Regions from separate parts of the Homo sapiens genome. Here region 2 is linked to region 1. The links come from fine-mapping of genetic effects on gene expression. Tissue or cell type: whole blood. Region 1 holds a variant in brackets; the other region holds the start of a gene. All regions are shown on one strand. Distances are between the middles of the regions.

Evidence for each region. PIP is the estimated chance that this variant, and not a neighbour inherited with it, causes the effect.
Region 2: it holds the start of EIF2AK4, and the variant in region 1 is fine-mapped to the expression of EIF2AK4 in whole blood (INTERVAL, PIP above 0.99).

What each region holds. Positions count from the first base shown.
Region 1 is chr15:39,546,790-39,554,582 of GRCh38, forward strand. No RefSeq gene overlaps it. Among named protein-coding and RNA genes, the nearest start is that of THBS1, 30 kb to the right of the region's middle. The variant A/G (reference allele first, on the strand shown) is at 3,571.
Region 2 is chr15:39,930,300-39,938,092 of GRCh38, forward strand. EIF2AK4 (eukaryotic translation initiation factor 2 alpha kinase 4) reads left to right here and starts at 3,816. Exons shown (of 39, transcript NM_001013703.4): 1 at 3,816-4,040. The coding sequence starts at 3,897. RefSeq lists an enhancer at 3,529-3,668 and a silencer at 3,689-4,098.

The sequences.
Region 1 (7,793 bases):
ATTGGCTTCATAATTACTTTTTTGATATGACACCAAAACACAGGAAACAAAAGCAAAAATAAATAAATAGGACTACATCAAGCTAAAAAGCTTATGCATGACAAAAGAATCAGCAAAATGAAAAGGCACCTATAGAATGGGAGAAAATATTGGCAAACCATGTATCTGTTAAGGGGTTCATTTCCAAAATATATAAGGAACTCATACAACTCAGTAGCAAATAATAATAATAATTTAACTAAAATTAAATTAAATTTCAATTTATTAAATTAATACTCAAATTAATTTTAATGTATTAAATTAACAGCATAATTAAAATGGTAAAAAGACCTGAATAGACACTTTTCTAAATTCATAAAAATGTCCAACAGGTTCATGGACAGGTGTTCAACATCGCTAACCATCAGGCAAATGCAAATCAAAACTAAAATAAGACATCACCATATACCTGTTCGTATGGCTATTACCAATAAGACAAGAGGTAAGTGTTGGTGAGGATATAGAGAAAAGAGAAAACTTGTGTACCCTTGGTAGAATGTAAATTGGCACAGCCGTTATGGAAAACAGTATGGTGTTGCCTCAAAAAATTAAAAAAAGAACTACCATATGACCCACCAATCCCACTTCTGTGTCTATATATCCAAAGGAAATAATATCAATCTCTCAAAGAGATATCTTCACTCTTGTGTTCACTGCAGCATTATTCATAATAGCCAAGACATGGGAACAACTTAACTGCCTGTCAACAAATGAATAAAGAAAATGTGGTATACATGTAGTTAAATATTATTCAGCCATAAAATTGGAGAACATCTTGCTATTTGCGACAACATGGATGAACCGGGAGGGCATTATGCTAACTGAAATAAGCCAGAAAAATGAGGACAAATACTGTATTATCTCACATATGGAATCTAAAAAAGTCACACTCACCAAAACAGAAAGTTGAATCATGGTTTCCAGGGGCTGGAGGTTAGGGGAAATAAGAGTATGTTGGTCAAAGGATACAAACTTTCTAATATAAGATGAATAAGCTCTGAGGATCTAATGTACAGCATGGTGGCTATATTTAATGATACTGTATTGTGTATTTGTAATTTGCTGAGAATAGATCCTGTGTTCTCACCACAAAAACAAAAATGGTAACTATCTGAGGTTAGGGATATGTTAACCAACATAATTGTGATAATCATTCCTTCACAATATATACTTATATCAAATAATCATGTTGTATATTTTAAGTGTATACAATTTTATTTGTCAATTATACATCAACACAAGTGGGAGGGAAAAAACGAGAAAATTGCATGAGCTAATGACCCAAGTCCTCATGTCATTCACCACTGTTGCACCAGCTATGGCTATATGGGCACCACTTATGTTCAGCTGATAGAGGAAGGGAAAAGCCAAGCTTTGTTCAAAACAGTTGGGCCAGTTTGATGTAGGAATACAAACCAGAAAAGGTCTTTAGTATTCTCAGTCCCACTCATGAATAACCCTAAAAGACAGCAGTGAGGGGACATCCTCCCAATGGACTTCAAGTGATGCACCTGGCCACTCACTTTGTGTGGAAAGTGGCTCAAGGTCAAATATATCTAAACTCATGGGCAATTGTAAATGGGTTGGCTGGTTGCTTAGTGGCCTGGAAGGAGAAAGAGTGAAAGATAAGGAATAAGGAGGTCTGGGGAAGAGGAATACGGAAGTGGACATGAAGTGCAAAGAGCTTCATGAAGATCTTTGTATACCATGTTAACGCCTACCATGGAAGAGGCAATTTCTAGTCAAATGGACAGACTGATTTGGCCAGGTGATGTCAGACAGCCCTTTCTCATTAATCACCCCAGTGCTGGCAAGCAGGCATATGAACAGAGTAATCATGGTGGCAGGCACGGAGGCTGTGCAAGGCAGCTTACAAAATAGGTGATCTAGTTTCTGCTGCTGCTGAATATCTATCAGGAACAGAGATTACTGCCGAGCCCCTGACAAAGAACAATTCTTCAGAGAGTCCAATCGGCCATGTGGTGGCACAGCAATTACATTAAACCTCTTTCTCCATGGAAGGGCCAGCAATTCATCTTGAAGGAAATCAACACATACTTAGGATACAGGTTTGCCATTCCTGCCCATAGATCCTCAGCCGGCACCATTATCTAAGGACTTACTTCATGTACGATTCACTAACACAGGAGCCCACAGAACATCCTGTTGTACCCAGAAACTCACTTTAGAAGAAAAGAGGTACAACGATGAGCACAGGACCAGCTGCTGACTTTATAAGGTAAAGGAACACCCTTTTGAAAGTATTGCTGAAGTACCACATTCAATATAATACTTAAGGCTGGAGTCCTTAAGCATCCCGCATCCTCCAGGATGCAGTGTCCACCCTTAATAATAAGTGACTATTATACAGTACTGTGTCTCCTCTATATAGATTACATGGTTCAGGGTGGAAATAGGGCTAATCCCTCCTACCATCTCACTCAATAACCTACCCAGGGAATTCATCCCTTCCATCTCCACGACTCTGAGCTCTGCAGCTCTAGAGAGTCTGGTTCCAAGAACAGAAACACTTATACCAGGAACACTACACGAATCCCATTAAACTTTAAGCTACAGCTGTTGGCACTTTATGTTTCTTGTGCCAAGAGGTCAACAGGCCAAAAAAGGCATCACCATTTTGGCAGTGGTAATTGATCAGGAGAAGGTTGAGCTATTGTTACACATGGTGACAGAAAAGACTATTTGGCTCCCAGAAGGACTTCTTGGGCATCTCTTGGTAATACCCTAGCCAATCGTAATGGTAAATGGATAAAAGTAGTAGTCATGGCTTGAGAAGGGCATGATGACTACAGGCTCAGATCCTTCATGGATGAAGGTTTGGGTCACCCAACCAGGTAAGCCACCTGGAGCAGAGCTTTCAGCCAAGGGGAAGAGAACTCTACACTGGGTTGTAAAGAAGGGATTTGATGAGTGTCAGTTGTGTCCCTGAGAACAGCTGCATTGTTGAGAGCTACAGTTTGTCCCATTAATCTTCCTCTTGTACATTTCCCTAGGAAAAGAAGCAAACCAGAGTTCTAGAGGAGCTCTTCCCAGATAGGGTGATTTTTTTAAATAAGAAATATGTGGTCCAAGAGTTGAAAGGGGTAACTGAAACAATCACTTTGATGCACCACAAGCTTCCCCGCTTCAGTTCTGAGGGCTTATTCCCCCAGTGGCCAGATATGTTATCTGCTGACAGCTAGCTGTTGAGTCTTTCTTTTGGAATTGCTCTTGGCCAAAGGGAGATGCCTCACCCAAGGTCATGACCTCTCCCTGGAGACAACCTGCATCCAATGAGAAGTCAATGCAAGAGCACAAAAGCTCGGCCCCCTTGCCTCAGCTTGGGACAACTCACAGGAGAGCTCCAAACTCCAGCGCTCCTCAGGATCAGCTGAGGCCATTGTTGCAATACATCATAGTTCATCTTCTTCCTTTGCCCAGTCCTTTTCCTCACCCTCTCAAGGGCGTTGAGGGCACTCCTTTAAAAAATTCCCACACAGAGACTCTCTGTCTCTGAGTCTATTTCATTGG[A/G]ACATGATCCAAAACATAATATATATCAAAATCCTTGAAAACATTCATCCATTTTAACCCAGTACTCTCACATCTAAGATAGTCTAAGGTAATGAGAGATTAAATCATAGTTTTGAGTTTGCTGTTGTAACATTATAATTTTTTAAAAACTATAAAGAATCTAAATGTTCAAAAAGAAAGAAATAGCTAACATAATGGTATAGAATTCTTTACAGCCATTACAGTTCATATTTTTGAGAAATATAGTGACATAGGAAAATGTTCACAATATAATTTTAAGTGAAAACAGCAGGATATAGAACTATAAAATTATAAATGGTTTGCAAACATATTACTTAAAGAACTATCACCTTTAAGAGAAATGCAATGACCCCAGTGGTAAATATATTTAAAAAAATCTAAGGAGATAGTCAAATTTTGTTTAATTGAGTAAAATTTGATCTCATAGCCAGACCTATTTTTAGGTAAAATAAAGATAGTAAATTCTCTAGCACTGGATATTTGAAGAACAGCACAAATGACACTTGGCTTGCTGTAGAGTAGAATTAAGCATGAATTTAAAATGTTTAAGGTACCATTTTGCCCTCCGGAATTCCATTCTGCAGTGAGTGTCTTAGAGATGTGTGGTTTTGGTCGGCTTGCCTCTGCTTTCCCTTGGCTGGCCTGGCTTTGGTTGATTTGTCTTAGTTAACAACTTAACTCTTGAAGACATCTGACTTCTTTGGCTAACTTTGACAATTAGGCAAGAAGAAATTTGTTTGATCATCTCCACCTCAAAACCCTACTACCTTTAGACCTTTATCACAAGCATAGAGGAAAAGAATTCAAAGAAAAGAAACTCATGTGAGATGTTACTACCAAGTATCTCTAGGCAATAGGAAGGAGTAACCCAGACCCACCATTAAGGGAAGGGGAGTGCTTTTAGAAAATAAGATTGTATATTGAGACAAACTAATTGTGATGTTGTTATGTCACATGTTTAAATAATCCCAGGTGCACATTCTCTCACTTTCATCAGAACACAACCACACCAAAGCAGGTCAAAGAATCTGACTCCTTTCCACCACCAAGCCTCTTAACATTTTCTAGACCTGAATACAAACCAAACACTCTCATTTTCCCAATTTCTTACTCCCACTCAAGATATTTCAAACACGTGAAATTGATTATTTGAAGGTTTAAGGGAGTGAAATTTAAGATTAAAGACATTCCTTCCCCAACCACTGCTCCGCACTCACATGGCAACTTGGCCTATGCTATAGACAGGGGAGATGACATTTAAGCTCCATGCAGAGATGAGCCCTGTCTTTGAGTTCTTTGTGGCCTTTCCTTCAGTGAAGAGTGTCAGTCCCTGTCTGTCCCTGCCCTGCCCCTTCTAACCACAGATGTCCTAGCCTGGCCATGGATGTGGAGTTCCTCAGAGCAAATAGAGTCCATGATTTTGTGTTCTCAGGGGTCATCAAGGTGTGCTGATAGCTTTATCTTCCCTTTTCACTTCATTTTTCTCTAATATGTGATTAAAATGCAGGGCTATCCCAGAAGGAGTTGACTAGAGAACTAAAAAACAAACAAACAAAACAAAGGGACCCCAAAATGACTTCATGGTTAAAAGAAAAACATAACAGTGAAAAAATAAAGGCATTATAATGAACTCTTCTCCATACTCTCTAGAGCCCTGGGGAAATCTCTTTGATGTAGAATCACTGAATGAAGAAAAGCCCATGTGAAACCAGAACACTTGGGTTTATCCAACAGATATTTTTAAAGCACTTGCTATGTATCAGGCACTGTGCTAGATACTGAAGATACATAGACCTGGACACTGCCCTCATGGAAATTATACTCTAGCAACTCAGATTTATCAGTCCCACAACACTGGGTAGACCGCACAACAATATCAGGCACAGTAGTGCCGTGAGCTTATCCATCCCGTACATGTTCCCAGGAGTGCTAAGAAAGGGAAATAGCAGCCAGAAACATCCTATGAAAAGATTACCTGGAACGACTCAAGAAAATCTGCCCAGGTGCATCTGTTTACCTCTCCTCCTCTGCCAAGCAGGAGAACAATATTGAATTGGAGAACACATATGTTAATAACTCCAAAGAGAGGCTAGTATCTCAGCTTGAGCACCAGCTCCCTGGATGCTACTATAGTTCTGGGCAAAACTGCAAAGCAGCCAAAGTTGGTCTTGCAACCATCCCAACTTTAGCCCATTATCAATCTCCCAGACATCACATGCACATAGCCTACCCTAAATCTGCCCCAAATCCTTCAATCAGCCTAGACATGCCTCTAGACTAGTGTCTGGTTTAAAATGTAAATGAGGTTTAACCTTACCAGGGATGCCTCAACATCCCCTGGCAGACCTTCCACCCAGACAGGAAGAGGTGGCATAATGGAGCAAGCATGGGTTTGGGGCCAGAAAGACCTGGTTTTCTACCCCAGTTTCACAACTTACTATTTTGTGACCACAAGCAAGTTACTTAACCTCGATTAAGCCTCAATGTTCTTGGCCACAAAATGCAGATAATAATGTCTGCCCAAATATATTTCGGGAAGATTAAATACAAACAAGTTCTTCATTTCTTATCCTATCCTTCCTCATCTCATAAGGGGAACCAATAAAGCTCAGCAAAAACACAAAAAAGACATTGATTTTATTTATTTATAGGCATTGGCAGAAACCCCATCATGAACAGGGAAACCCTTTGGAATTCTGCTGCAATTGATTGCCTTGGCTGGGAGATGTGAGGTTCCTGGAGCAATGTGAAGAAATCCAGGGGATCGCCTGGGCAGGACCCAGGCCTCTAGGCAAAATGTGTGGAACAAGCCATCGGTTTTATAATCCTCCTAAGAAAGATCATGAAAAGCAAAGTGCATTCTTAATTATTTCAAAGAGCTCTGGATTCTATATAATCTGTCCTGGAAATAATGAAGAGAAGAAAGACAAAACTTGGCTTTATTTACAGAGGTGACGTTACAGGGATTCACCATCTATTATTACCTGGCAATACCTTAGGGCTGGCCTCCACCACTGCTTTTTATGAAGAGTAAAGTACACGTGAAGTCTGTTGTTCAAGGCCCTGACCCACATCCAACCTGGACTCCCACCACTCTCTCTCAGGCATTCTGGGCTAAGCTGTAACTCAGCCGTGTCTTCCCTACACTAGCGACAGTCTTCTGCTTCATCCTGCCCTTCTCTCCACCTACCAAGCCCTCCTTTCATGTCTTCCCATCAACCTTCTCCATATAGCCAAGCCCCTGCTCAAATGGACCCTCTCCATCAGGGAGAGGTAACAGAAGCTAGAACCCAGGCTCAGGGTCCATAGACCAGGCCCCAGGGCCTACTGGGGCCAGTCAGTATGGTGGTCTCGATACCACAGACCTGGGACTCAGTCCATAATGTGGCTATCAACCAGGGTGCCCTTAGAATTAACTCAGGAGCTTTTAGAAACATATAAATGCTCATATCCCCACCCCAAACCTTCTAAATCAATATTCCATAGGGGATAAGAAAGGTATCTGGGTATCTGAATTTTTTAAAGACTCCACCCTGGATTCTAATGCACGGCCTCAGCTGAAAACCATGGCTCACAGATAGGAACTCCTCTATAAAAAGGAAACTAGATACTATGCCATGACTTCATAGACTCTACAAATAGAGCTGATGGAAAATAATACAAAAAACAGTAATTGGACAACCTGAACATTTACAAATCAAAGGGGCCAGGTGATAAGTAGTTTGGGGTGTTCAAAGATCTGAGTAAGAAACCAGTGAAAAGTTTCATTATTTCTCACAACTTACTGGGAAGCAGATGGGTGGAGGGGAGTGGAAACTGAAAATGTCTGGACATTTGTTCTGAAACTAACCAGCACCTGTAAATCTGTAATTAGCAAAGTAAGGATAGTTGTGGCTAAAAATATAGTTTGTAAATGTATCAAGGACAGTGGAATGTCTCAAGCAATAAGCAAAACGGCTTTCTTAAGGACAAAAAAATCCAAAACAACATGATATCTTGTTTTGGAAAGGGTAACCATATGAGAAGACAAAAGAAACACAGCAGCTGCTGTGTTTGGGGCTTGAGTTGCAGCATTTCATACAACAGCTCATGAAATTTTAATTGCTGACATTTAAAGGTTCAAATTGGCAGGGAGAGCAAGTCACATGGGTTGAACACTAACAAAAGATTACGAAGGAAAGGTGAGGCTCTGTGGCACATCT
Region 2 (7,793 bases), 380 kb after region 1:
TCCCTCCACCTGGCTCTTCTATGTCCTCCCTATCCCCAAGCAACCACTTATCTTCTTTCTGTTACCAAATTTGTATTTTTCAGAATTTTATGTAAATGGAATTATGTAGTGTGTACTCTATGTCGGCCTTCTTTCATTCGGCATAATTATTTTGAGTTTGTCTATGTTGTTGCTGTATCTATAATGTATTTCTTTTTATTGCTGAATAGTATTTCATTGTATTGATATACCTCAATTTGTTTATACTTCAATATGTCCATCTTGTGTTGGTGGGCATTTGGTTTGTTTCCAGTTTGGGGATATTACAAATTAAGGTGCTACAAATATTTACATACAAGTCATTGTATGGACATACGCTTTTGTTTCTCTTGGGTAAATGCCTGGGATGGAATTGCTGTTTCATATAGTAGGTATATGCTTAAGTTTTTAACTAAAATGGATGATAGGCCAAAAGGTAAAATCTAACACTATCTAGATGAAGACATAGAAGAAAACCTTTTTGGCCTTGGGATAGGCAAATATTTCTTAGATATGACTGCAAAACATAATTCATGTAAGAAAAAAATGACAAATTAAATGTCCTCTAAAGTAAGAAACATGCTCTTTGAAATACAGTTAAGAGAATGAAAAAGCAAGCCACAGACTGGGTGAATATTTTTGCCTGTCACATATCTGATAAAAGACATGTCCGGCCTGGTGCAGTGGCCTACACCTGTAATTCCAGCACTTTGGGAGGCTGAGGCGAGCAGATCACGAGGTCAGGAGTTCAAGACCAGCCTGGCCAACATGGTGAAACCCCGTCACTACTAAAACTACAAAAATTAGCTGGGCGTGGTGGCATATGCCTGTAATCCCAGCTACTCGGGAGGCTGAGGCAGGAGAACTGCTTGAACCCGGGAGGCAGAGGTTGCAGTGAGCTGCGATCGCACCACTGCACTCCAGCCTCGGTGACAGAGTGAGATTCCATCTCAAAAAAAAAAAAAAAAATACATGTCCAGAATATATAAATATTTCTCAAAAGTTAATAAGAAAACAAAAACAAAATTTTTAAAATGCACCAAAGATGTGAATAAAAACAGAAGACAGACGATATATGAATGGAAAATAATCACATGAAAAGATGCCCAACATCATTAATCATTAGGATAATGCAAGTTAAGACACACTGAGATACTGCTAAGCACCAATTACTATGTTTAAGATTAAAAACATTACAATACCAATTACTGGCAAAGAGGTAGAACAACTGGAACTCCCATAAACTGATGGGAATATAAAGTGGTACAACCACTTTGGAAAACACTTTGACAGTTTCTTATTTTTTTTGCTTTGAACTTTGACTTTAAAATAATTTCCAACTTACATAAAATTTTCAAGTCACTCAAAGAGCTCTCATATATCCTTCACCTAAATTCTCCAATGTTCAACATTCTACATTTGATTTAGCATCATCTCTCTTCTTTTTCCTGAATCATTTGGGAGCTAACTGCATATTTAATACGTCACTGCCCCCTTAATGCTGCATTTGGTATAATACTGCCATGTAATCCACAGATTCCTTTCAAATTTTGCTGTTTGTTTTAATTATATCTTTTATAGGTCCAGCGTCCAGTATAGATTCTAATTTTACACAATGGAAATATTTGAACATAGATTAGGTATTAAACGATGCTAAGAAATTGTTAATTTTTTTTTAAGAGACAAGGTCTTACTCTGTTGCCCAGATTGGAGTGCAGTGGTGCAATCACAGCTCACTGCAGCCTTGGACTCCTGGGCTCAAGCAATCCTCCCACTCAGCCTCCTGAGGGTGGGACTACATGTCACCTCGTCCAGCTAATTTTTTATTTTATTTTTTGTAGAGATGGGGCCTCGCTATGTTGCCCAGGCTGGTCTCAAACTCCTGGCCTCAAGTGATCCTCCACCTTGTGCTGGGATTACAGGTGTGAGCCACTGTCCCTGGCCAAAGGGTTACATTTTTAGGGTATAAGATTAGTAATATGTTATGTTGGTTCCTTTTCTAGTTAGAGATATATCCTTAGGTATTTATTTTTTAAAATGATATGATTGAGACTTAAAAAAAACACTCCTGAGGGATGGAGAGAAGAGATGAAATAAAATTGACAAAATATCTATGGTTGTTGAAGCTGGATGATGAGTACAGAGGAGTTTACTTCTAAGTATGTTTGACATTTTCATAAATATAGGTTTAAAAGAATTTTTTTAAAGACCAATAGAGAAATGGAGTAATTTTAAGGATTAGAGTGCAATGGCCATATTTGCAATTTAGAAACATTACTCTGGCTGCAATAGGAAGAATGGCTTAATGTGGGGCAAGAATGAAGACAGTGACTAATTAAGAGAGTTATTGAAGTAACCCAGGGAATTGGTGACAGTAGCCTGAACTAAGTTAGTGGCAATGGGTTAGAGTGTAGTGGATGGACAGAAGTGGTGACTATTTGGATGTGAGTTGAGAGAAAGGGAATTCAGAATCACACTCAGTTGAATGGTGCCATTTACCTAGTCAGAGATCACTGGAGAAGGAACGGGTCTCCAGCAGAGGGAAGATGATGATTTAAATTGGCCTTGGGTCAAGCTAGTGCATTTGTGTTATCTGGCCAGAAATGAGTGGATAGATGGCAGCAAGGAATTTACACAATCATTATTTAGTGAACAGTGGAGGAGTAAGCAAGGTAGACAGAAGAAACGTCACTTAAACCTAACTTGGGTTAGTACAATAGGATTATTCGAAATGGACATGCAGCATTAGTAAGTTACTGAAGATGAAGTGCAATAACAATGTCTGGGTAGACAGGTTATTATTTTATAAACTTGAAAAACGACGACTTGAGGCAGGATATAACACAAAGACTCCCTAAATTCACACTGAGTGAACTGGGAAGGGAACATGATTCTCTTCATGGGAAGGTAGCTCATAAAGATGCCTGAGTGGAAAGACAGTTTTCAATTGAATTTGCAAGGTGGTAGTGGAGATCCCCAAAGCTGGGGAATGTAGAGACAGAGAACATAATGAGGGTGTTGAATCTGTGGCTCAGAGAATAAGTTTGGGGGTACTAAAGTGGGAGGAAGGAGGGTGGGGGGGGTCACAATTTTTACTCCCGGTAGTCTTGTTCTGGGAAGGTACAAGGTGAAATTAGAAGTGACCTCAGAACCCATCGACGTCTGCCCTTTAAGAGTTTCCCGGCCGGGCGCGGTGGCTCATGCCTGTAATCCCAGCACTTTGGAAGGCCGAGGCGGGCGGATCACAAGGTCAGGAGATCGAGAACATCTTGGCCAACATGGTGAAACACCATCTCTACTAAAAATAGAAAAATTAGCCGGGCGTGGTGGTGCGCGCCTGTAGTCCCAGCTACTCTGGAGGCTGACGCAGGAGAATCGCGTGAACCCGGCAGGCGGAAGTTGCAGTGAGCCGAGATCGCGCCACTGCACTCCAGCCTGGGGAACAAGAGCCGAAACTCTGCCAAAAAAAAGAAAAAAGAGTTTCCCGCACTAGCCATGCCAGGGTGGAGAAGTTCCAGCAAGCACTTCTGTTAAAGATACTTGTTTCGTGAAAACTATACAATGTGGCGTTTTCATTCCTATCTGTGATTCATTTCTTAAGTTCGTGGAGTTCCTTTGCTCCCCTTCCCCCAGCAGGATGTGGGCAAAGCTGTCCCCCTGCCTTCTTCCTTCGCCTGGGCTTCTGGAGCCTCCGGAGCTAGCTCCCGGCGCGGAGCTCCGCCTACGGCCCGTCCCCGGCGCGGAACCCCGCCCACGAGCCCGTTTCCAGCGTGGAACACCGCCCATAGCCCGTCCCCAGCGCGGAGCCCCGCCCCGCAGGCTGCCGGGGGCCCACCGCCGCCCAGGCAAGGCCGCCCTGCCTTGGGCGCAGCGCTGCCATGGCTGGGGGCCGTGGGGCCCCCGGGCGCGGCCGGGACGAGCCTCCGGAGAGCTACCCGCAACGACAGGACCACGAGCTACAGGCCCTGGAGGCCATTTACGGCGCGGACTTCCAAGACCTGCGGCCGGACGCTTGCGGACCGGTAGGAACGTGGCTTGTCAGGCCCGGGCTGGCGTGCCCTGGCCTCCCCGGGCCCTGGGCCAAAGCCCGGACACTTCCAGATTGGGCCGCCGCTTTAGGATCCTGCAGTCTTTTCATCCCTTAGGTTCCACCCATGCTCACTTTAGTCCTTGCACCTGCAGCTGGTCTGCAGAATCCCACCTAGGCCGAATTCTTCTACAGTCCTTTCCCCATGATTTCCCCAGAGGAATCCCCCTGGATTCCTCCCTCTTACCTGGCACTGCTTCTTATTCCTGCCTACATCCCATAACATAACTGCCTCCTTCCAACCTTGTCCTTTTTCCCCTCTGAAAGCCCTTGCGGATGATACCACAGCAATTCATACGCGCCCCTTGCTACTTTGTTCTGAGAACGCTTTTTGGGCTCTCGCACAGGCCTTACGTCCTCAATCAGAATTCTCAAGTCTCATCCATGCATTCAAATCTGCACGCCACATAATTCCCTCTGTACTCCCCAGGCATCCTCACTGTGTTTTCCGGTATGGAGGAACTTTCCATACCTCTGCACCTTCCTCTAAGACATTTAGCTCAGAATAAAGCACACATTCATCTTAGCTGTAGTAGAGAGAGGGTTCTAGACTGAGTCTAGAGAAGGAGTGTCCAATCTTTTGGCTTCCCTGGGCCACACACAAAATACACTAACACTAAGGATAGCTGATGACCTAAAAGAAAAAAAAAATTCGCAAAAAAACCTCAATGTTTTAAGAAAGTTTACGAATGCGTGTTGGGCCACATTCAAAGCGGCCCATGGGCCTCGGGTTAGACCAGCTTGCTCTAGCTCTAGACCTTTTAAAATGGCATTTTGTTTAAAATAATATTTTGCCTTTTTGTCTGGAAATTAAGGCACGTTATAAAGTATTTATACTGACAGTTTTTTCCCCATCCTTGAAGAGTTGATCTACCAAACTATTTCTGAATATTATCATATTATCATTTAAAACATAGTTCTAACTTCATCTGCTTTTTTTTTTTTTCTTTTTGAGACAGGGTCTTGCTCTGTCTCCCAAGCTGGAGTGCAGAGGCATGACCACGGCTCACTGCAGCTTATTCTCAAGCAATCCTTCTGCCTCAGCCTGTCAAGTACCTGGGACTACAGGCACATGCCACTACACCTGGTTAATTTTTTTAATTTTTTGTAGAGACAGAGTCTTGCTCTGTTGCCCGGGCTGGTATCAAGTTCCTGAGCTCATGCAATCCTCTCACCTTGGCCTCTGAAAGTGCTGGGATTACAGGTGTGGGCCACCGCGCCTGGCCTCTTCATCTGCTTTTAACTTTGGCATTTCACAACATCTGCTCTATCTACACATCCAGGATTTCCTCAAGAAATACCATCTTCTGGAGCTATCAGGACAAAATATTCTCTCTCAAACTCAGGGTGCTTCTTCCTTCATTAAATATTTGTTTTAGGCATTAGGAATACAGCTGTGGGCAAAACAGACAAAAATCCTTGCCCTCAGGGAGCTTACTTTTCTAATGCTTAATAATATGAAGTTATTTTTAACCTGAAATGGTAAAAATATAAATTATTCCCCTTAACATGACAGAGAAGTTGGTGACTGGGGAACTTCTATCTTCCCAAACCTTGAGAATCAGGAAGTAGGCCCAAGAAGCAGCCAAAATAGGTGTCTCAAAGTGTACATGGGACTCAACACAAAGCTCCTAAGGCTTCATTCTGAACTAGTTTGTTTACTTTATACAAGCTTAGTTGTCTGCTCCTAGGGCTGCAGAAAAATGGAAGAGAAAAAGCAACTTCTTTTAGGTAGGGATATTGATAACCTCAAGAATTTATAGCTGGTGGCTTTCATAACAAGATGGAATACTAGACAAACCAAAGCAAAAACTATAGAAGGCAGGCAGAAGAATTTAAATAGCTGTCTGTGGCCTATTGTACACCGGGCAAATGGCCTCAACACATTCATAGGACTGGCAGGCAAATAATTGATGGTCTCAAGGATGAATCAGAGTTTAGTCATTCAACAAGCACTTATTATCACCTGCTATTTGCCAGGGAAAAGTGATGCAGGTCCAAAATCCTTTATCCAAAACTCTTTATTGAGAGGGAGTTTCTCTCTGTCGCCCGGGCTGGAGTGCGGTGGAGCAATCTCGGCTCACTGCAACCTCCACCTCCCAGGTTCAAGCGATTCTTGTGCCTCAGCCTCCTGAGCAGCTGGGATTACAGGTACCCGCCTCCACACCTGGCTAATTTTTGTATTTTTAGTAGAGATGGAGTTTCATTATGTTGGCCAGGCTGGTCTCGAATTCCTGACCTCAAGTCCTCCCGCCTCGCCTCCCAAAGTCCTGGGATTACAGGTGTGAGCCACCGTGCCCAGCCTTTTATCCAAAACTCTTGAGACTTGATGGGTTTCAGAATTCAGAAGTGCTTCTGTTCACGTTTATGTGTGCACATTCCACACATTACCTAATACCTTCCTCAGTGTCTGGGGCAGCATCGAAAATCAAACACAATGAAACATAGAAATACTCAAATTTCACACTGAACAAATAAACACTATAACTAACCTCATGTCAGTTCAGGCTAAATTTGCTGCCAATAAATTCAGGTTAGATTTTTTTTTCAACTTCTTTTAGTGGGGATGTGTTGTAATATAAATTTCAGTTTAGTAGCATATGTATATCATTTATAAATAACATTTTGAGGTGCATGCTAAAAACTTTTGCATTTGTAAAAAGTTTAGACACTGCTAGTTTAAAGTATCTATAATTTATAGATAGTTACAAATTACTAACTTATTTTGGCTAGCTTTCCACAGCAGCAAAAGGTCTGCTCATTTATAATTTGATAGCTTTTGGAAACATCCCTCCAAAAAACTTGCTTCAATCCCTGGATCCCCCAGTAGTGTATGGTGGTGTTTGTTTTCCTTTATCTTCAACAATACTATATATGTTAGACTTTTTCATCTTTGCCACATAAATGAAACATATCTCATTTTAATTTTTATTTATTTATAAATTATCTAGAACACCTTTGTTTACAAACCATTGATTTTTCTTTTTCTGTGAACTGCTCATACTCTGGTTTATTTTTCTACTCTGTGGTCCATTTTCTTGTTTATTTGTAAGAGCTAAATATCTTAAGAAAACTAGCATTTTGGGTCATATAATGCATATATTTTTCTCCTAATTATATGCATTTATTTACGTAATTTATGTGATTTAAAAAATGTTGATAGAGTCAAAATGACCTTTTTTTTCTTTTATGGTCCCTGTGGGTTTTTTTTCCCCCTCTGTTCCAATGTTACTAAAAACCAAATTCGTCAAAGTTTACTTTTAACTTGTTCATGACTTCGTTTTTAAATTTTCATCAAATAAAGATATAAGTAGGTTTTTTTTTTTAAGTTCTTCGTTCCATCAAAGTACGGGCCTAGGCCACCTCCCCGTGTGCATCCCTCCTCCTCCAGCTAGGCAGCTAGACAAATATAGGCAATTGAATTTTTCAGTGTCTTCCACTCATTTGAAATGCCATTCCTACAAGCCCAGTGCCTGGTAAAACAAACAAAAAACTTTCAAAAATTGTTACTGAATGAAATAATTCTCAAATGTATTTCAAGTCTCTTTTTTTCCTTGCCTGGAATGCTTGGTCTCTTGGCTTGTCTCAGCTTCAATGCTACATCCTCAGATAGTTCTTCTTTGATAACCACATTTAAGTATATACCCTCACACCCCAAGTCGTTTGTTAAGGAGAGCACCACGTCATC